Homo sapiens: one gene and its partners. The protein of the gene in region 2 purifies or fractionates together with the protein of the main gene of each other region. This does not show direct contact. Each region holds a gene or a part of one and is shown on either strand. Other genes may lie near its edges.

What was found.
Region 1: the proteins of NPC1L1 (region 2) and DNAJC10 purify together in Homo sapiens (affinity purification with mass spectrometry; one large-scale study listed by BioGRID and IntAct). This does not show direct contact.
Region 3: the proteins of NPC1L1 (region 2) and CLPTM1L purify together in Homo sapiens (affinity purification with mass spectrometry; one large-scale study listed by BioGRID and IntAct). This does not show direct contact.

Annotation. Positions count from the first base shown.
Region 1 is NC_000002.12:182,729,744-182,733,392, forward strand, and holds part of DNAJC10 (dnaJ homolog subfamily C member 10 isoform 1 precursor), read left to right. Parts: intron 1-104; coding exon 105-198; intron 199-1,286; coding exon 1,287-1,364; intron 1,365-2,755; coding exon 2,756-2,799; intron 2,800-3,649. UniProt on the Homo sapiens protein: Endoplasmic reticulum disulfide reductase involved both in the correct folding of proteins and degradation of misfolded proteins.
Region 2 is NC_000007.14:44,520,764-44,524,412, reverse strand, and holds part of NPC1L1 (NPC1-like intracellular cholesterol transporter 1 isoform 2 precursor), read left to right. Parts: intron 1-2,170; coding exon 2,171-2,361; intron 2,362-2,576; coding exon 2,577-2,701; intron 2,702-3,294; coding exon 3,295-3,421; intron 3,422-3,592; coding exon 3,593-3,648; intron 3,649-3,649. UniProt on the Homo sapiens protein: Plays a major role in cholesterol homeostasis. Critical for the uptake of cholesterol across the plasma membrane of the intestinal enterocyte. Involved in plant sterol absorption, it transports sitosterol, although at lower rates than cholesterol.
Region 3 is NC_000005.10:1,321,075-1,324,723, forward strand, and holds part of CLPTM1L (lipid scramblase CLPTM1L), read right to left. Parts: intron 2,796-3,649; coding exon 2,713-2,795; intron 1,838-2,712; coding exon 1,803-1,837; intron 746-1,802; coding exon 690-745; intron 606-689; coding exon 561-605; intron 1-560. UniProt on the Homo sapiens protein: Scramblase that mediates the translocation of glucosaminylphosphatidylinositol (alpha-D-GlcN-(1-6)-(1,2-diacyl-sn-glycero-3-phospho)-1D-myo-inositol, GlcN-PI) across the endoplasmic reticulum (ER) membrane, from the cytosolic leaflet to the luminal leaflet of the ER membrane, where it participates in the biosynthesis of glycosylphosphatidylinositol (GPI).

The DNA of each region.
Region 1 (3,649 bases), on a different chromosome or scaffold from region 2:
TGCATTATTCAAGATAATGTAAAAATCAAACTCTTTGGTATTATTTTTATTGAGTTTTAAAAAGAAAAAGTAAAAGATGTTTCTCTTCTTACAAAAACCAATAGGCCCCAGTGAAATATCATGGAGACAGATCAAAGGAGAGTTTAGTGAGTTTTGCAATGCAGCATGTTAGAAGTACAGTGACAGAACTTTGGACAGGTAATTTTATTTTCTTAATTTGCTTGATTTTCAGGGTATTTTGAAATCAGTATTTTGTTTTTAATGGCAATATTAACATTTTGGTCATGGTATTGAAATTTTAAAGTGTCTTTTCCATGTTTCTTAGAAGGGAATTGTGTCATTTACTCTGAACTCTGCTGAATTTAACAAACTAGTTAAATTTTTACAGAAACTTGAACTATCGAGATATGGGAAATGGATATGAGATAGGGCTACGGTAAAAAAGGCATCTCTCAAAGTGCAAAAAATGTTTTGTAATACAAGTGTTTTATTGCTTTTTTAAATATGCTTATCAATCAGTAAATTCAAACCTATTCTGTTTAATTTTAAAGTTTAAAAATGCTTCTAATCTTAGGCTTTTAACTCATTAACTGCCTTTAGGCAGATTAAGCTAATAATAGTATTTGTGGCTCAAGATGTTCATTTTATTCATTGAGTAAAGTTACGTGTCAGAAACTATTAAATAGTGGGGCTGCAGTAATAAAATATATAGTCCCTGCCATCAGTGACTTCATTAGTGAGGAAAACATTAGTAAACAATTAAAATGCAATATAGGTACTATTATTATAGAGCTTAAGGGAGCATAAGATGTGTAAAACAACCCAGTTGGGGAAAAGAGAAAGAGTTAGAAAATACTTCTTGAAAGAAGTCATATCCAATCTGTCATGAAAATGAATAGGAAGCCTTAGGAGATCACTGTGTATTTGGGGAACTGGCAATACTTCATGAATCTGACAAAAAGATCAATAATTGGGTCAAGTGGTGTGGGGAAATATAATATAGCTGGCTAAATAGGTAGGCAAAGCTCAAGTCACAGGGGCCTAACTTGCCAATTTGAGTTTTTTTCTTAATGAAATAATGAATTTAGGTTTTATATGATGAAAAAATTGGAGAGCCATTGAAGGAATTTGTCATACTCAAGAGTATCTTTGGAAAGATAACTGGTAAAACTCAGAGTGGATTAGAAGAGGGTGAGATTAGAAAGGAAAAATTACTTAGAAGACTGTTTCCATTAGTAAAGGAGTAATAGGTGATCAGAATTTGCTTTTTTTCTTTTATTTTTAAGGAAATTTTGTCAACTCCATACAAACTGCTTTTGCTGCTGGTATTGGCTGGCTGATCACTTTTTGTTCAAAAGGAGGAGGTAATACTATTTTTTAATTTTGTTGGAATGAGAACATGACATTTAAATTTTTGGTGACAGTTTTAAGTATGCTACTGTAATTGATTATTAAGTACTAGAAACTACAATTTATGCCCAGGATTACAATTTTTTTACTTAATGAATATTCGCCTTTTTCATTATTTTACACATGAGGTTATTATTCATTTTTTAATGTATCCTCTATGTTTTTATGTTCAGTGGACCAGTTTTTCAGCTTAGACTCATGATAAATTGTACCTTCAGATAGCCACAGATGTTATTTGACAATTTGCAAAAATAACTAGTTGTTTACAGCTCTAACCCCTCCCAAAATAATAATTTTTTGGAAATATGGACTTTGCTTCATGCTTATATATATCTCTCAAACATACATAGATTTGCCTCATACAATTATATACTTGAAGATGACAGCTTCTTCTAGGAACCTTTCCTTGAATAAATTAAGTTGAAAATTCAGTACTCTGCATAGCAAGCCGTAAACTGTAAACTGTGTTCAAGCAATGTGGTTGGTTAAAAATTGTTCTAAGACAACAAAATATTATAACTCAATGTATTTGCATGTATTTAATCCCAACATGAGTCTTCTCCCCACATTTCATCTCTCAGCCTTCATGCTGCTATATTGAAAAGGTACTGCCTTGTAACTAAAATCAACCCATTACCCCATCCTGTAAGGCCTATGCTAGAAAGACACTGCCTTGCAGCAAAACGTCAGCCTTAAACTTAACTAATCACCAAGGGATTTTGTCTCATTTTGGCCTATTGCCCAAATTTCTGTTCATCCACACATGAACAAAAGTTCTTACATTCTCTGAGATTCTTTTACTTCTCACCTCAAGTAAATTGCTTCTCCCTGTCTTTGTAGGCTCTGTGATGCTATAGCTCTCTTTCTTCTAAATCTTCTCTCATTGTATTCTAGTGTTCATATTTGCAGAACTTTCATAAAAATAGTGAAGGCACTATTTAAAGATTTTATTGTATTTTGAGGATCCTTTATATACTTCTATCAAATATCTATTACATTTTATTTCCCCCCAATTTTGAGATCTCTTGGATAAAATGGATTGTTGATAGGAGGAGAGATTGAGAGTATTAACCTAAAGAGAGAAAATTACTTTTTCTCTGTAGCTAGACATCCTAGAAATTAAAGGGAGAGAATGAAAGAAAGAGGGAGCGAGGGAGTGTGTGTGTGTTTTTGTGTGTGTGTTTGTATGTGTGTGTGTGTAGAAGGATTTCCATATCTATCAATAGAGTCCAGCTCAATTAATTGCCTTCGAATGAACATGGTAATTTGGGGGAAAGGCAAATGCAAGTATTTTCATCAGGCTTAATAAAGGTAAAACTGCCTCATAAGGTTTTTTTGTCCCCAGATTGTTTGACTTCACAGACACGACTCAGGCTTAGTGGCATGTTGGTAAGCATCAATCATTTTGTAAAACTATATCACCATGTAAAGAAACACATTTAGAAATTGATTTGAAACATTTTCTTCCCTTATTTCTTGAACATTTAACTCACCTATTTGTAATCTTATTTTCTGATGACTGTATTCATAGCTATGTGTTTTTTCCTGAATAATTAGTTACGTTCAATAAATTTTAACGTGGTATCAATTCTAAGTGTCATTTACTTTGTAAGTATTCTGTAATTTATAAGTTCCTCTTCAACTGAAGTTACATGTTAGTGTTTTTGTCATTTCCCAACTTTATCTTTTGTTGTTTTCTTTTTTAGTCATTTTTAAATGTATATAGCTCTCATGTTATGGCTGGGAAGTAGCCTGAGTGATGTTGATTTTTTAACACCATTGAAATACCCTTTGTGGCTTTGTGGCTTGACAAAGCCACACAAATTGTCAGTTTTGAAAATTTTGGAAATTCTTTGTGAGCTTGAATATAATAATGTTATGTTAGGTGTAATATATGTTAGGTGTAGTATTACATTTATTAGATCAGATTTATTAATCATGTTATTTGTTTTTGGACTACATGATCTATAATTTCTAAGAGGGATGTATTAAAATCTCTACCATCCATCATTGATTTATCTATTTCTTATATTTCTGTCAGTTCTTCCTTTACATATTTTGACATTATATTGTTGGCAGCAGTATGATCATTATATCCTTTGGCGGCTATTTATTTCTCTTTGTGCATTATGGATTTGTTTACACAAATTCTGTTTTATTTGATATTAAAATCACTAACTTAGTATGCTTTTGTTTCATTCCCTTTCTTATTTCACCCTATGCCTAGGCCTTTAGTTTT
Region 2 (3,649 bases):
GTTTCTGTTGGTTAATATTTTCCCTTTGAATGGGCCATGTTTTTCTTTTTCTTGGTGTGTTTTTGGTTGAAAAATGGACATTTGATTCTTATAATGTGGTAGCTCTGGAGATCAGATTCTCCTTCTTTCCCAGGGCTTGCTTTATTTTATTTATTGCTGTTGGTGTTTCTGTGCTGGGGATCAGCCAAAGGCACAGAGTTAATGTCTTCTCAGGTATTTTTGAGACTGCATTTTTCTCTGAGCATTTATGCAGTGTGGTGACTGTCTAAATATCCCTATATTTATGGTTGCTTTTGAATGTCCTTGTCCTTATATGTATGGTTCCCAAAAGGAGAAAAAGGGAAAAATGAAGGTGTCGGGGATAGGTGCTTACTCTTTAAATCTCCTGGAAGTCACTTTAGTAAGATGTGGAGGTGGTTGCAACAACGGTGGTGGGAGTTGCATTAGTGGCTGCCTGCCTGTGTATCTGTACCACCAATATCAGAAGTAATGATCAATTATCAGAACTCAGATCCTTGATATTTGAACTTATTTATTTATTTATTAGAGACAGGGTCTGGCTCTCTTGCTGAGGCTGAAGTGCAGTGGTGCAATCATAGGTCACTGCAGCAGCAAACTTCCAGGCTCAAATGATTCTCCTATTTCAGCCTCCTGAGTAGCTAGGACTACAGGCATGTGCCACCACACCCAGCTAACTTTTGTATTTTTTTTTGTAGAGACAGGGTGTCGCTATGTGCCCAGATCGGTCTCCCACTCTTGGGCTCAAGTGACCCTCCTGCTTGCCCTCCCAAAGTTCTGAAATTACAAGTGTAAGCCATCATGCCCAGCTGATATTTGGTGGATGGTGTCCTTGCCTACCTGGCTCCTGCAAGCTGTGTACAAGCTGCTTCTGGAAAGCATACACAGCTGCATGCCTTGAGGCTGGGAGTGGCAAATGGGTAGCTGCTACTGTACTAAAGCTGAGATTGCCTGAAATTAACCACAATTTACTGTCCAAGCCTTATCCTGGAAGCTTCCAGCCCTCAATAGACTCCAGAGTTCCAAAATCGTTACACTAGGGCCGGTGTGGTGGCTCATGCCTGTAATCCCAGCCATTTGGGAGGCCGAGACGGGTGGATCACTTGAGGTCAGGAGTTTGAGACAAGCCTGGCCAACATGGTGAAACCCCATCTCTTTTAAAAATACAAAAATCAGCTGGGAGCGGTGGCACATGCCTGTAATCCTAGCTACTCAGGAGGCTGAGGCACAAGAATCGCTTGAACCCAGGAGGCGGAGGTTGCAGTGAGCAGAGATCGCGCCACTGCACTCCAGCCCAGAAGACTCCATCCATCTCAAAACAAAACAAAACAAAACAAAAACAAAATAGTTATACCAGACAAATTGTTGTCTAGCTGGGGAGAGGGATTCCTGACACTTCCTACTGTGCCATTTTCCCTAATGTCACTCTGAGCCTTTATGTTATAGAAGGGAGCAGACCATGAGGATGCCTGGTGCATGGCTTTGAGGGTGTGCACACTGACATTTATATGTGCACACAAATATGGGCCGTTGTCACAGGCCAGCTTGTTAGACGGTGGCTGTGCCATATTGGGGGTGATAGGAAGGGGTACAATTATGTGTCTGTGCATGTTTGTGTGTGTCAGTGTGTGTTCATGTGAGGTGATAGGTGTTGCTCTGTGTTTGTACCTGCATAAGTGTACTTCTGTTTGCACCTGTGATTATACCTATTCTGTGAACCTTGGAGTATGTTCATCTGGGGGTACACCTAAAACTGTGTTCCGGTGTAACTGTACAGTGCACATACATCTTGAGGGTACCCCTGAGTGTGTGTGTCTGTGCATGTCCTTCTCTATATGTACCTTGTGTGTGACCTCTGAGCATGTACATCTCTGTGTATATTTTGTGTACTTGTGTGCATGTACCTCTGTGTACCTCTAAGCATGTATCTACGTGTATATCTCTGAGTGTCCCACTGAGCACATCCCTTTGAGTGTGTAACTGCATGTGTGTCTCTGAACATGTTCCTCTGTGTGTTCCTCTGATCATGGACCTCTGAACATGTGCCTTTTAGCATGTACCTCTGTGTGTACCTTCGAGAGTGTGAGCTGGATTGAGCCCTTTAGGGGTGTGCATAGCGAACCAAAGCTCACTGACCCTCCTCCACTCCTAGGACTCGTACCTGCTTGACTATTTCCTCTTTCTGAACCGCTACTTCGAGGTGGGGGCCCCGGTGTACTTTGTTACCACCTTGGGCTACAACTTCTCCAGCGAGGCTGGGATGAATGCCATCTGCTCCAGTGCAGGCTGCAACAACTTCTCCTTCACCCAGAAGATCCAGTATGCCACAGAGTTCCCTGAGCAGTGAGTTCCTGGCCCGCCCCAAACCCCAGCCTACTCCCTGTTTGAGTCCCTCCAGTCCTCTCCAGTCCCCTCTTCCTGATGTTCTATCCCTGTCCTGCTGCCCTGCTGCCTTGCTGCCGTATGCCTGGGGAGGGCTGCGTGGGGGTTGGGCCACGAGAAGGACCCACCACCCTGCCCAGCTGGCCTTTTCACCCTTCCTCCCACCTGCCCCTTAGGTCTTACCTGGCCATCCCTGCCTCCTCCTGGGTGGATGACTTCATTGACTGGCTGACCCCGTCCTCCTGCTGCCGCCTTTATATATCTGGCCCCAATAAGGACAAGTTCTGCCCCTCGACCGTCAGTGAGTGTGGGGCCATGGGGACTCACTGTCCACCACAGCTCGGGCAAACTGAGGCAACAGAAAGGAGAGGACTGGAGAGGCTCCCTCAACCTCTCCCACGCATCCTGCAGGGTCTGTCGGGGGCATGGGTGCAGATGTGGCCTGAGGGACAGGCACTCTGTGAGAAGCACCTGTGTGGGTGACCGTGCTGGCCCGTGGGCATCACACATGTATACTGCTGTGTACTGTGCCCCCATTTTCAGAGCACATGGTGCTCCCGGGTGGCAGGGCAGTGGGGAGTCAGGAGGGGAGAGCTGCTGAGGTTAGCACATGGCCCTGCCGCCCAAAGCAGTGGCATTTGTAGGTGGAGAGGCCTTTGTGGGGCCTGTTTTTCTGCCCCAAACTTCCTTTCCCCTTCTGCCTGTAGGTGCCCACAGTTTCTATAGCCAAGAGGAGAACTTCTCCCACAAATGACAAATGCAAATCCCCCTAGAAGCGACTGGTTGAGGCTGGAGTGCCCAGGACCTTTGATGGGATTGTTGGGGAAGGAGGGGCACAAAGCAGGAGCTGCTGGCCCTGGGGTGTCACTGCCCAGACCCCTGCTTTCTCTGCAGACTCTCTGAACTGCCTAAAGAACTGCATGAGCATCACGATGGGCTCTGTGAGGCCCTCGGTGGAGCAGTTCCATAAGTATCTTCCCTGGTTCCTGAACGACCGGCCCAACATCAAATGTCCCAAAGGGTAAGCTTGGGAGGGCCTTCTGCTGGGGAGGACAGACATGTGGGACACAGGATGGGGTTGAATATAGAGAGGCAGGAGGAGGCTATCAGGGGCCTCTCTGGGGTGGCTGTGGGCTGGGCAGATGAAAGAAGCTTCGTCCCTGGCTAAGCCTTTGCCCTGACCTTCTTGCAGCGGCCTGGCAGCATACAGCACCTCTGTGAACTTGACTTCAGATGGCCAGGTTTTAGG
Region 3 (3,649 bases), on a different chromosome or scaffold from region 2:
CCCGAGACCACAGCCAAGGGGAGAGCCAAGGGCAGAGCCACCTGAGCATTGCCCTTTCCTCTGGGAGCTTGTAATTGACTTCAGAAAAGTGCAAATCATGTCCCATTAACTCAGCTCCGCCTGCAATGCCGAGGCACTTCTAATCCCACACGGAGCCAAGGGGGCCTCCACAGCTCTGCCAGCGGGGAATGGCCACGGCCCATGGGGGCTTCCATTCCTGCCTGGGAGGCCTGAATCCGTTGTCCCCAGGCACCGGTTACTGAGCCACAGGGGGTCTGTGTCTTGACACATGTGCTAAGAAGAAACATAAACACTAAAAAAGAAAAAGAAAACCAAATCTGTGACAAGTGAGAGAACCACCCCAGTCTTTCAGGGTCTGAAGTTACTCTATAGCTCTTCGCTTTTTTTTTTAAAGGAGCCTCCTCAATATTCTTCAATGAAAGGGACAGGTGCAGATGCACTCTGGGCAGAGATGGCCCCAGTAATGCTGTTGGCTGGAAGACGCCCTTGCTCACGCTCTGCTCAGTGAGAAGGGATTCCTCACCGGCTGTCACACTCACCTTGTAGGTGAAGGCCTTCCAGGGCAGATGTGCCACTGACTTCAACTGAAACAGGAGAGACAGGCCCAGGTCAGCTGTGGGCAGCACAGGAGACGGGGGCCGGGCCGCGGGCAGCACACACCGCCTTACCTTGTAGTTCACAAAGAGCTGGGGCAGCATGAAGAGGAAACCAAAGGCATAGACCCCTGCAGAAAGACAGACAGCACTCACGAGGTGCGGAGGGCCGGGCTGCCACATCTACGCACAGACGGCACTCACGAGGTGTGGAGGGCCGAGCTGCCACGTCTATGCATAGTGGGCAGAAAACAAGGTCTGCTATCCAGACAACTTCAGAGTCCATCATGGTGTGAAGCAGCTTTCTGGCTGGTAAGTTTATCAAGAGTCTACGACAACTTTGGAGAGCAAAGCTCTTCTATTTATTAATCAGTGTAACTGCTGCCCACGGGGTCAAGTCAGTGAGAGCACTGGAGCACCCTGGGGCTATGAGGACACGGCCTCCTGACCCACAAGGTCCTGCCCCAGGGGTCAGGTGTGGGACTCCTACCAGGGAGGACGGCAGTGCGGGACCCACCTGCTCTGCACCAGACAGGCCCTCGCCCTTAATGCTCACGGGACCACTTCCCAAAGAGACCACAAAGCTGCGATCAGGGCTGGTCTGGTGGGGCTGGGGGATGGACACAGCAGCCCATGCAGCTGAAGGTGCCACCTGGGGCAGGCGGGCCTCCCAGGACATGTGGCCCCGAGCACAGGGCCCTGCAGGGTCCCCACACTGCATCTGCAGGAGGGGGCGCGCCGTGCACCAGAGCCTGGTGCTTCCATTTGCTCTAAGGAACCAGACGTGGATGGTGTTGTTTTAATGCTTAGGTTTCCTTGTTTCCATGAAGAAAACAGACAACAGTCATGCACCACACAATGCTGTTTTCATCAGCGATGGACACATATACCAGGCGGCTGCACCACACAGCCTGGCGTGGAGGGGCTGCCACATCTGGTGTGAGCACTCCCTGTCGCTTGTACAAGGACCTGTTTCTCAGAACCAGTCACTGTTGTGAAGCCACGCAGGGCTTTATCTGCTCACAGCCTGGGGGGAGCCCTGGGCACCGCACATGTGCCAGAACAGGGTGGGGAGGGATTAGCCTCAAATCACAGGGGGGCTTGCCACACTGGGTTTCAATGCAAGAACAATTAAATCGCTGCCTGCTGGAAACACTAGTACTGAAGCAGGGAAGCACATGGACTCACCGTTGACGAAGCTGTTGATTAACCAGGAGTACCAGCTGAAACGGAAAAAAAAGGAGAAGTCCTATTTCTCGCATAGCTTAATATCTGTATTAAATTGATGAAAAATAATTCTTTCATTAAAAATCCTCTGAAAATACCCAGATGCTCTCACGGCAGCTCGGCAGCCAAGAGCAGCAGTGCTGAGCCTGGTTCTCAAGCTGGAGATAGCGCTGAGCACCCCCGGCCGGGCAGCAGAGGCCGGGCACTCCAGGAACCCCTCAGCTCAGGGCCAGCACCCCACCTGGGCAGCAGAGGCCAGGGGCTCCAGGACCCCTCTCAGCTCAGGGCCAGCACCCTGCCCGGGCAGCAGAGGCCGGGCACTCCAGGAACCCCTCAGCTCAGGGCCAGCACCCCACCTGGGCAGCAGAGGCTGGAGGCTCCGGGATCCCTCTTGGCTCAGGGCCAGCAGCCCACCTGGGCAACAGAGGCTGGGGGCTCCGGGATCCCTCTTGGCTCAGGGCCAGCACCCCACCCGGGCAGCAGAGGCTGGAGGCTCCAGGACCCCTCTCGGCTCAGGGCCAACACCCCACCCAGGCAGCAGAGGCCGGGGGCTCCGGGAACCCTCTCAGCTCAGGGCCAGCACCCCACACGGGCAGCAGAGGCCAGGGGCTCCAGGACCCCTCTCAGCTCAGGCCCAAGCCTCCCATGAAGCCTGGTGGCTGGAGTCAGTCCTCTCAGCTACACCTTACCAGGGGGACACTGAGGCCCAGAGCCCACCGTGTGCAGCTGCAGGGGCAGGACCCCTCCCAGGCGCTGGCCCAAGTGCCCCGGCCCCGAGTTTGCCCTCCAGTCGCACCCCGCTCTGGCTCAGTCATCCAAATGGCTTTCTCAGGGGAAAGACGCAGCAGGGGAAGCGTGTGCGGCCTCCTACCTCTTATATTTGATATTCAGGAGTGAATAGACAGCACCCCCGACACAGAGAGGGTACAGCAGGTATGACAAGTACTTCATGGCCTGCAGGGAACAAAGATGGCTTCCAGTTAGAGGCCCAAACGCCAAGCCTCTGTAAACACACTGCATGGAGCTCACCCCGACAGGGACAGACAGAACGAGCTACAGCGCTCAGGGTGGCAGGGCTGCTCTGCAGGGGGCGGCGTGAGGGGCACAGGCAGGGCATCGCACACTCGCCACAGCCCCAGGAGGCACCGCACACGCCAGAGCCCGGGTGTAACTACAGGCGCTAGTTAACAATAATAGATCAATTCTGGTTGGTCAAAACCAACCAACCCACAACAGATCAATAAACATAATGGAAAGAAACCGGAAAAAACTGCCTACTAAGTAATGTAGTTACATCGCCAGCTGTATCCATTCTGATTTCAGCTTTACAACGCCATGCAAGTTGGATATAAGCTGGTGAAGATTAAACCAAACTAAAATCATCTGTGCAGAAATGTTCTATTAACTGGAACTGAGAATTCCAGCTCCCCCAACAGCAATGGGGAAAGGTGACGCCCTGTGCTGCTGGGGCCATTCCTCCAGGCCACTGTGCGGCCGCGGCCATTATGGCCTTGGTGACGGCAAGTGCGTTCCCAGCAACCACAGCAGACACCATGGCCTGCGTCAGCTGCCTGGCGAATGTGACTTACAAACGATGAAAATATCCCTACTATACGGTGACACAGGCAGGCTGTGCCTGTAAGGACTGGGAAATGAGTCTCTGCGAGCCCCCGCCCTTCCCAGTAAGAAATTTGGGTTTTATGTGTTCACTCTTGGGATCCCTGCTCAAGGCGGGCTGACCCGTACTCCAAGGAGACTTCCGCACTGAGCAATGACAGTAAAAGACCCGTCTTTGAGGGTGTTGGATT